Homo sapiens: one gene and its partner. The protein of the gene in region 1 interacts with the protein of each later gene in a pairwise test. Each region holds a gene or a part of one and is shown on either strand. Other genes may lie near its edges.

Evidence for each region. Proteins that work in one complex are often made in the same cells at the same time.
Region 2: the proteins of SHISA4 (region 1) and TSPAN33 interact in binary tests that used the Homo sapiens proteins (3 or more experiments, as listed by UniProt).

What each region holds. Positions count from the first base shown.
Region 1 is NC_000001.11:201,886,901-201,892,618, reverse strand, and holds SHISA4 (protein shisa-4 precursor), read right to left. Parts: upstream 3,722-5,718; 5' UTR 3,625-3,721; coding exon 3,552-3,624; intron 3,175-3,551; coding exon 3,003-3,174; intron 2,166-3,002; coding exon 2,032-2,165; intron 1,219-2,031; coding exon 1,051-1,218; intron 820-1,050; coding exon 773-819; 3' UTR 32-772; downstream 1-31.
Region 2 is NC_000007.14:129,153,902-129,158,206, forward strand, and holds part of TSPAN33 (tetraspanin-33), read left to right. Parts: intron 1-4,305. UniProt on the Homo sapiens protein: Part of TspanC8 subgroup, composed of 6 members that interact with the transmembrane metalloprotease ADAM10.

The sequences.
Region 1 (5,718 bases):
GAACTGCCTTTGTACAGTTAGCAGTGCCTCAGCTGTTGTAGAGCTGTTGATCCCTAGCAGGGAATATCTGTAGTGCAAACGAGCATCTCTTCAGAGCTGTGGCAAAATTCACCTCATTGTCTTTAGGAAGCCTTTAGGAAGCCAGGAACAGTCCGCCTTGGTCTGCTTGTGGATGGGGGTGAGGATGGTGCTGTGCTCCGATGCTGGTGCTGGCCCTCCCCTACTTTTGGAATATGGAGTGGGCAACAGTCTGGGCCCAGCTGAAGGCGGTGTTCCTGGAAGGTGTGGATGGGTCCAATGATGCGACTGATATGAGTTATGTCTTTACAGCTTTAATCTAGCAGGCCAGAGATGTGGCCAGTGGGGCAGCCAGAGAGGAGGGCTACTGCCAGCTGCTGACGGAACCTCCTCCCTCCCCCCACCCCAGCCCAGAGGGGACAAACAGTAGGGCCCCAGCCTTCCTGGCTGGGATCTTGGGAGCAGAGGGACTATTTGAAAACAGGCACTGTGACCCAGGCTGTCATCTCCCTCCCTTGCCCCCAGTAAAAATAGCCCATAATTCCAAGCCCTCCCCCCAACCCCTCATAGTTCTAGTTCAGCTCCTGTTCCACTTCCCTGGGGCTCTGTCCCCAGTAGGGCCCAGGGCTTGGCTTGGTCTGGGGCCTGGTGGCTGGAGGACTCCTGCCACCCCCAGGACCAGATGCAGGTACAGGATGAGGGCATCTCCCAAGGTTGGCATCACTGAAGGGGCAGCAGAGACATGGCTGGTTCCTCAGGCTCCCGGGTAAGAGGGCTGTGGTGGCATATAGGGAGGAGGAGCTGAAAGCCAAAGAGACAGGATGAGGGTGAGTGGTGGCATAGGTGGACGAAAAGTAACACCCCTGCCCCCGGGGCAGACAGGACCCATAGGGAAGAGTGGGCCTGGAGGTTTCGGGCTAGAGGTGGAGGAAGTCTGGGAGAGGGAATCTGAGAATGAGAGAGGCACAGGGGAGGTCGCAGGGCAAGGGGTGGGGGAAGGCAGCAGCAAGGGGCTCCAGATTGCTTACTTACCTGCAGGGTTGTAGACTGGGGGCCCAGCTGGGTAGAGTGGATATTGGGGAGCAGGACCACTAGGTGGGTATATGAAGCCAGGCTGTGGGGGTGCAGGGCCAGCTTTGGGGTCCTGGGGGTATGGGTATACTGGCTGCACTGGGATGCCTGTCATTGGAATCTCCTGGCCTAGATGGGGGAGAAGGATCAGCATTCAGAGACCCATCTCCTATGGGAAGCCTCCTCCTCCTGCCCAGGAAACCAAGGTAAGCACCCTGGTGCTGGCCTCTGGCAAGCTCCAGGCTGGCCATCTTTGCCTCCCACACCCTGCTTGGCAGAGTTAAGCAGGGAGCTGTGCACGTGGCCCCAGCTGGTCAATCTGTGTTGAGCAAGTTTGCTCCCCTCAGCAGGTTTCAGAGACCTCATGAACCAGGGAGCACAGCCCAGGGAATATCTCACTTGGGCAAGAAGGGGACAGCTCAGGGCTGGTATCCTGTAATCCAGCAGAGCTGCCACTAAGAGGGTCTTCTCCTAGCCCTTCCCTCCCACACTGATCTCCCGTATGGCATCACTGTCCCCATGTCCATCAGGTTGTGGCATATGTGCATCACATGCCAACACTCAGGCACATATTTTGCCATCCACTGGAGCACACTCAATTAATGTTCATCACTACAGACCTGACCCCGTGTACTTACTAAGAGTCATATGTATGCATACACCCACTGCACCCACTATTGTTGACAGACTGCACTCCTGTACACATTTGAATCTTCATGTGTATGCACAGAAATGCACACAAAGTCTGATGTTCCATATATCCCAGGCACATTCTAATATTCACGGGTTTACAAGCATTTTTCTGGGTTTTCATGCTGGCAGGTGTGTGTATACAGAAGCACATACTACTACAGAATTTACCCAATCCATGAACTCTCTGCTGCCCATTATTGGACTTAGCCCAGCCCATCTGAGGCCCTTCTTGCCCAGTACTGGGTGTACCTTCAAATGGGCTCTGGAGCTGCTGGCGCCGGCGGTACAGGTAGCAACAGGAACAGAGGAAGCAGCAGATGGTGGTGGCAACCACAGCAACAAAGAGGATCACAGCTGAGGCGATGCCTGCTATGGTCTTGGGGCTTTAGACAAAGAACAGGTCCTCTCACCTTCCAACACTCATAGGACGGAGTCCTCATTATGCTGGCTCCAACTCCTGGCCAGCAGGGGGGCCATGGCATGCTGAGATTTGGGGTTCCTTGTGGGGCTCTGCCCAGTCCCTGTGAAGGAGATCTTAGAGGACCTCCACTTCCCAGAAGGCTATGCTGCCTGGCTGGCTAGTGTGAAGCATACGGGGATTTGCAGTGCGCCCCCAACCATTGCTTTTATATCTACAACTTAAATGATTAGACATACAGCATAACACTGAAAGGAGCCTTAGAAATAATCTAGAGCCATTTTTTCCAAACCCCGCTTCAATCAGAAGTCTCTATATCTATTTTATATATGATATATTAAAAAAAAGTTTGACAACCACTAATTTGGCAAGCAATGACCCATAGAAGGCAAGTGTCTTCTCCAAGATCACACAGCTAGTAAGAAGTGGACCTGGGAATCAAACCCAAGTCTCCTGCCTTTGTGCCAGAGCTTCTTCCACAAAGCTACACTGTCGTCCGGGTGTTAACCTTGAACCCTCCCTCCCCATGACCTGGCAGGACCAAAGGGAGGGCTCCAGAAAGAACCTGGAAACCCCGGGCCCAGTCAAAGCCTATGAAGGTAACTAACATGCCTTTTCTGGAACTCCCAGGCACCAGCACCTAAGCACCTAGCTCTGCCGCCAGGCTTGAGTCCTGGTGACTCTATTCAGCTAAGAATGTGGAGGTCGACAACGGAGGAGGCAGGAGTCCGGGAGGGAGGAAGAGGAGGCCTCTGGAGAAAAGGATAGAGGAGGTGGTGAGGGTGAGGAGGCAGGAACCCACCTGAAGGCCAGGCAGTGCTTCTGCTGCCTCTCGGTGATAAGCAAGGTCAGGTCCCTGCAGCAGTACCGATGGTAGCAGGTCCCGCAGCAGAAGGTGAAGAACTCGCAGTTAAACCCCGGATGCCAGGAGCCATTCCGGTCCAGGTACCACAGGCAGTCCTCGCCGGCCAGCACTGCGGGCAGGGATTGGGGGTGCCCAGTGGCCACCAGGCCAGTTCATCCCCAGCCGCGCTCGGCCCCACTCCCCCGGCGGTCCCCAGCCTGACGGCTCCCGAACACTGAGGGTTGCCCCTTGTCTCCACCCTGAGGGTCTCAGCCCCAGAGCCCCCGAGGCCTCTGCCTGAAGCTGACCCTGCACCCCGGGATCAGCCTCCCATGGCCCAGCATCCTGGAGCTCCCTCTTCCCGCTTCTTGAGGACCCAGCAACACCCAAGGCTCCCGTGGCAGCCGGAGGGTCTCGGAGAAGCCCCGAGCCCAAGCCCCTCGGATCGGTCCCTCCCCTTCCTCCGCCCCCATCCCACTCCTGCCGCATCTCTCCCCATCCCCTTACCCAGGGGAGCCCCCAGCACCAACAGAGCGATTGCGGTGAGCGGCGCGGCCCGGCGGAGCCCCGCGGGTGGCATGGTGGGGGCTGGGCGCGGCCGGGGTCGGGCCTCCCAGAGAAGGGACCGCAGGACCAAGCCGGCCAGCTGGAGCTGCGGCGGGGCCCAGCCCGCGGCCAGGCTCGGGCTCCTCTTCCGCCTCCTCTGGGGGTGGGACTAAGCGCCCCGCCCGCGCTAACCCAGCCGGCGCGGCTCCGCGCAGCGCCCAGGAGTCCACCCACCAGCGACGCCCACCTAGCCTCTGGAGCTGGGTGCCCCTCACCCAGCAGAGCACTGCCCTGCTCCCCCTGTCCCCGGCTCCGCGGTGGTTCCTCCCATCCGAGCCACCATGGGCACTGCGGGCAGTTGGGCACTGCGGCCAGGGAAGCCTGGCTGTGTCCTGGACCCGCCCCCGGCCTGGGCCCAATCACTATGCTGGACTCCAGAAGCCCTGATCCTGGTGCCACCTCCGAATGCCCAGACACATGGGCCAACCCTGGAGGAGCAGGGCTGGACCTTCACTTGTGGGGGACCTCCTCTGCCGCGTCCAGCCTGGGACATCCTGTCGGGGGCGGAGAGGGAAAGAGGCTGGATGTCACCCCGCCCCCATTCCCAGAACACAAGCACTCATTGAGAGGCATTCAGAGTGGCTTTGTCCCCAGCGGTGCCCACAGGCCTGAACCCTGCCAGCTGCACTGGCTCCCTACGATGGACCCTTCCCCCTTCAAGTGGACAGAGCTGGCATGCACCAGCCCATGGCCTCACTAGCAGGGAAGGCAGGCTGCTGGGGCCACCTGGGGCCCATCCAGTTAAACACTCTTCACAGTGAAAGCCCTTCACAGAGCAAGCCTGTACTGCAATAGCCACCGGAGCATAGGGAGGGCAACAGTTAATTTCAGGTGGGCAACAGTTAATTCCAGGTGGAGACAGTGTTTTAGGATGGGAGAGGTCAGTCTTCACAGGTTTATACTGAGTGCCAGTGACTATGCCCCATGCTACATGAGGTACCCTCCGAGGAACTGCAAATTAAGCCAGGGAGATCATCAAAAGCCTACCTTAATCCCCTGCCATGTACACCCTTTCACACACTTCTGGGCTTCCACATCTACCTCACTGGAATCTTTCCACAACTCCATGAACTAAGCAAGGTTCATCAGTGTTATCAATCGCATTTCACAGACTGAGAAACTAGGACTCATGGAGGTTAAAGAACTTGTTCAAGGTAATACAGCCAGTAAATGGTAGAGGCATCAGGAAGACCCAAATCTAAATCAGGGTTGATCCCCAGCCGCAACAGCAGACAGTGTAGACAGTGAGTATTTCTTGTGTTCTGGGGTGAGAGAATCAGGACAGGTCCATGGAAGGCCCAGTAGAATCTTAGTAGGTTAGGGAAGGACAGCCGAAAGAGGAGCTACCCCATCCTGGGCCCCTGTGGGTGCTGGCACACCTACCCAAGAGAGCTGGAATAGGAGAGGATAGGCTCCTGCCCCAGAAAGTTGCTGGTAGCCTGATGGGCAAGAGTATGTCCTCACGCAGGACACAGTCATAAATGCAGCAGCAGGGACAAAGAGAAACGCCTCTGAATCCAGCACCACCTACTCAGTGTGCCCATTGCCATCCATCTCCTCTTTCCTACACTAAAAGCTCCATGACTGCAGGGACCACGTGGCTGTGTTCAATGTGGCCATCCAGCCCTAGCCATCAGTGTTGTCATTGTTGGTTGAATCATCTTCAGATAAGGGACTGTCTTTCCTGCCCAGAGCTGAATCTCCCATGTGTACCCTTGACCCCTGCTGATTTGTCTCTTCATTATCCCATCTCTTTAGTGTCTTTAGCTTCTCACACCTTACCAGCTTCTTTTCCCTAGGAAATCTCAAGTCTCTCCTATTTAAAGCAAAGCAAAGCAAAGCAAACCAAACCAAACCACATCCTTCCTAAAACTCATCCCTCTCTAGCTACTTTCCTGCTTTTTTCTCCAACTAGCCTTCCTCAAAGTGTATACCCCTAGTTGACACGCCCTCCTCAAAGTGTATACCCCTAGTTGACACTTCCAGCTTGCAATGACACCTAGCACGCACCAACATCATCAGTGATTTTCTAATTGCAAAATTCTAAGAATGTGTTTCAGTTCATGGG
Region 2 (4,305 bases), on another chromosome or scaffold:
ACTGTACTCCATCCTGGGTGACAAAGCAAGACACTGCCTCAAAGAAAAAAAAAGAAGAAGAATATGACAAAATCTATAATGTACACCAACAGAGCACTGTGACTTCCCAGTGCTCTGTCACTTGAACAATTTTAAGATCCACTATCTTAGCCAAGCATGGTGGCTCATGCCTGTAATCCCAGCACTTTGGGAGACCAATGAGGTAGGATCACCATATGCCAGGAGTTTAAGACCAGCCTGGGCAACCTAGCAAGATCACATCTATACCAAAAATTTAAAAATCAGGTGAGTGTCATGGCATGTGCCTGTACTCAGGAGGCTGAGGCAGGAGAATCTCTTGAGCCCAAGAGGTTGAGGCTGCAATGAGCTATGATTGTACCACTGCCCTCCAGCCTGGGCAACACAAGAGTGAGACCTTGTCTGTTGGTGGGGGGAAGAAAAAAAGATCCACTGCCTTAAGTTTTGGTGTGATTGATGGGAAATCACCCAGATTACAGTTTGTAAAACTGTATGCAAGTGAACCCTAGTTTATGAAAATCTGATGTTAAAAAATGTATAGGCCAGGTGTGATGGCTCACGCCTGTAATCCCAGCACTTTGGGAGGCTGAGACGGGTGAATCACCTGAGGTCAGGAGTTTGAAACCAGCCTGGCCAACATGATGAAACCCTGTCTCTACTAAAAATACAAAATTAGCCGGGTGTGGTGGCTCATGCCTGTAATCCCAGCTACTTGGGAGGCTGAGGCAGGAGAATCGCTTGAACCTGGAAGGTGGAGGTTGCAGTAAGCCGAGATCGCGCCATTGCACTGCAGCCTGGGCAACAAGAGCGAAACTCTGTCTCAAAAAATAAAATAAAAAGTATAAACTAACAAATTGGGGTGGGAGGAGGTAATAGACTATTTTTCAAGAACAATTTTACAGAAAAATTGAGAAGATAGTACAGAGATGGACGTTTCTCAAAAAACAAAAAATAGAACTACTAGACAATCCAGCAATCCCACTACTGAGTGTTTATCCAAAGAAAAAGAAATGAATATATTGAAGAGACATCTGCACTCCCATGTTACTGCAGCACTATTCACAATAGCCAAGAAATGGAATAACCTTAAGTGTCCATCTACAAATGAATGGATACAGAAAATATGGTTCATATACATAATGGGATATTATTCAGCCATAAAAAAGCATGAAATCCTGTCATTCGTGACATAGACAGAATTGGAGGTCATTATGTTAAGTGAATAAGCTGAGCACAGAAAGACAAATATTGCATGTTCTCACTCATATTTGAGGGCTAAAAAAGTGAAACTCATAGAGGTAGAGAATAGAATGAGTTACCAGAGGCTGGGATCCAGGGGCAGGAGGATGAAAAGAGGCTGGTTCATAGGTACAAACATATGGTCACATAGAAGGAATAAGTTCTAGTGTTCAACAGCACAGTAGGGTGACTATAGTTAACAACAATATATTGTATTTTTCAAAATAAATTTAAAAGGCTTCTAACACAAATGATAAATGTTCAAGGTGGTGGATGTTCTAAATACCCTGATTTGATCATTAAACATTGTACACATGTATCAAAATATCATATGTATCCCATAAATACATACAATTTACATATATCAATTAAAAACATTTTAAGATAGTATTGAGAGTTCCTATATACCCCATACTCTGTTTTCCCTGTTATTAACACATTAGTATGATACATTTGTTGTAATTAATAGTATTATCATTATGGTCTACACTTTATTGGTTTTTTTTTTCATTTTTATTTAATATCCTTCTGTTCCAGAATCCTATTCAAGATACTACATTACTTTTTTCTTTCTTTTTTTTGAGACAGGGTCTTGCTGTGTCACCCAGGCTGGAGTGCAGTGGCACAATCATGGCTCACTGCAGCCTCAACCTCCTGGGGTCAAGCGATCCTCCTCCCACCTTAGCCTCCCAAGTAGCTGGGACTACAGGCATGCACCACCATACTCAGATTATTTTTATTTTTATTTTTATTTTTTGTAGAGATGAGGTCTACGTTGCCTAGGCTGGTCTCAAACTCCTGAGCTCAAACCATCCTCCCCGCTCGACCTCCCAAAGTTCTGGGATTCCAGGCGTGGCCCACCATGTCCTGCCCTACATTACATTTAGTTGTCATGTCTCCTTAGGTTCCTCTTGGCTGTGACAGTTTCCTAGACTTACCTTGTTTTTAATGACCTTGACAGTTTTGGGAAGTGCTGGTCAGGTATTTTGTAGAATGTCCCTTTATTGGAACTTGCCTGCTGTTTTACTCATCATTGTAATACTGGGGTTATGGCTTTTGGGAGGAAGACCAGAGAAGTCAAGTGCCATTTTCATCACATCACATCATATCATATCATACAAGTGATTCAGCAACATGATCATTGTTGATGTTGGCCTCGATCGCCTGGATGAAGTAGTGTTTATCAGGTTCCTCCGCTGTAGAGTTAGCCTTTCTCCCCATGTTCCACACTGTGCTCTTTGGAAGAAAGTCACTATGCACAGTCTGCACTGAAGGAGTAAGGAGTTAAGCTCTACCTCTTTGAGGATGGAGTACCTACATGAATTATTTGAAATTCTTCTATGTAGGAGATTTGTCTTTTCTCTGCTATTCATTAAGTCACTTATTTATATCAGCATGGGCCCACAGATGTGTATTTTTTATTTTGGGTAATAATTCAATATTTCTTTATTTCGGTGCTCAAATTGTTCTAGCCTTGGCCATTGGGAGCTCTTTCAGTTGGCTTCTGTGTCCCTTTGGGATGCTCACATTGATGAGGATACTGATGTGGGGAATTCATTTTTGTTTCTTCGTGAGCATTTCCTTTCTTTGGGGCACTACAAGATGCTCTAGGCTCATCTCGTGCCTTTCCTGCCCCCATCCTAGAATCAGCCACTTCTCCAAGGAGCCCAGGGGATGGCTATTTTCATTACAAGGTGATCATTCACCTTTCATAGGGATAATGGTACTGGTGTGTGCAAATTATTTTATATAATTTGACTGACAACTTTTCAGGAACATACATTTTGCTAAAAGCTAGACTCAGCCATTTTAAAAGTTGTATCTAGCTCTTAGAAGTTTCCAGCCAGGCTTCATTCTAGTCGGAATGTGAAAAGCTATCCAAAGAAGAGAAATGTCTTTATCTCCATCCTCATCGTGAAAGGAGGTCATTCATGATATTGTGAGGTGCCATAAGGATTTTACAGAAAATTCTAGCATAGTGGAAAGAGTTCCAGAATGAGATTGGGAGGTTGGATTTGGTCCAGATGGTGCACTGCACCCATATGCACTTGGTTAAATGTTACTTCCGCTCTTTTGGCCTCATCTATAAAAAGAGGTGAGTGGCCAAAACCCATTTCTAAGGTTCTGTTCACCTCCAAACGTGATGCTATGAACAGCAGCAGCAGCACTAACTTTGGAATGGCAGTAGCTTTGAGGAATCCAGGGTGGGAAGTGGGGGCAGGAATGGGGGTGTGCAAGGTCAAGCTGTGAAATGCAGAATTTGAGAGCTTAGGGGAGAGATATCATTAGTGATCATATTAAATATTAATAATAATATTAAAGACTTAATCTTGATTTTAATGTAGCCTGTATCTGTGGCTCTAGATCCCTGGCTGATTATTCTTTAGGCTTGTAGGTTCTCAAGCTTGGCTGCACATTGAAATAACCTGGAACACATTCAGAAATACTGTTGCCTAGGTCCCAATGCCAAAGATTCTGATCGACTTGGTTTGGGATGCAGCCTAGGCATTAGCAGTTTTTTAAGCCTCTCCCCCAACAACCCTAAGTCCCAGGCGATTCTAATGGCAGCCAAAGTTGAGCATGTGCTTTCAGCTATAAACGCTCTTGTCCCTCCACCATATCCACGCATGGATTAAGGGTCCTCAGTGTACCATCTGCATAGCAGCAGATGAATTGGATCTGGACAGTGTATTAGTTTCCTGTTGCTGCTGTAACAAATGACCGCAAACTTAGTGGCTTAAAACAACACACATTAATTTTCTTATATTTCTGGTGGCCAGAAGGCCAAAACAGGTTTCACCGGGCTAAAATCAAACAGATCTCGCTGGGCTAAAATACAGCAGCCCCGCATTCCTTCGGGAAGTGCTAGGAAGAGCTCGCCTCCTTGCCTGCTCCAGCTGTTAGAGGCAGCCCTCATTCCTCCATCCGTGGCACCACAGCAGTCCAGCCTCTGCCTCCATCACCGTCTCCTTCTCTGACTCTGGCCCTCTTGCCTCCTTCTTAGAAGGTCTTTTATGATTATACTGAGTCCTCAGGGATAATTTCCCT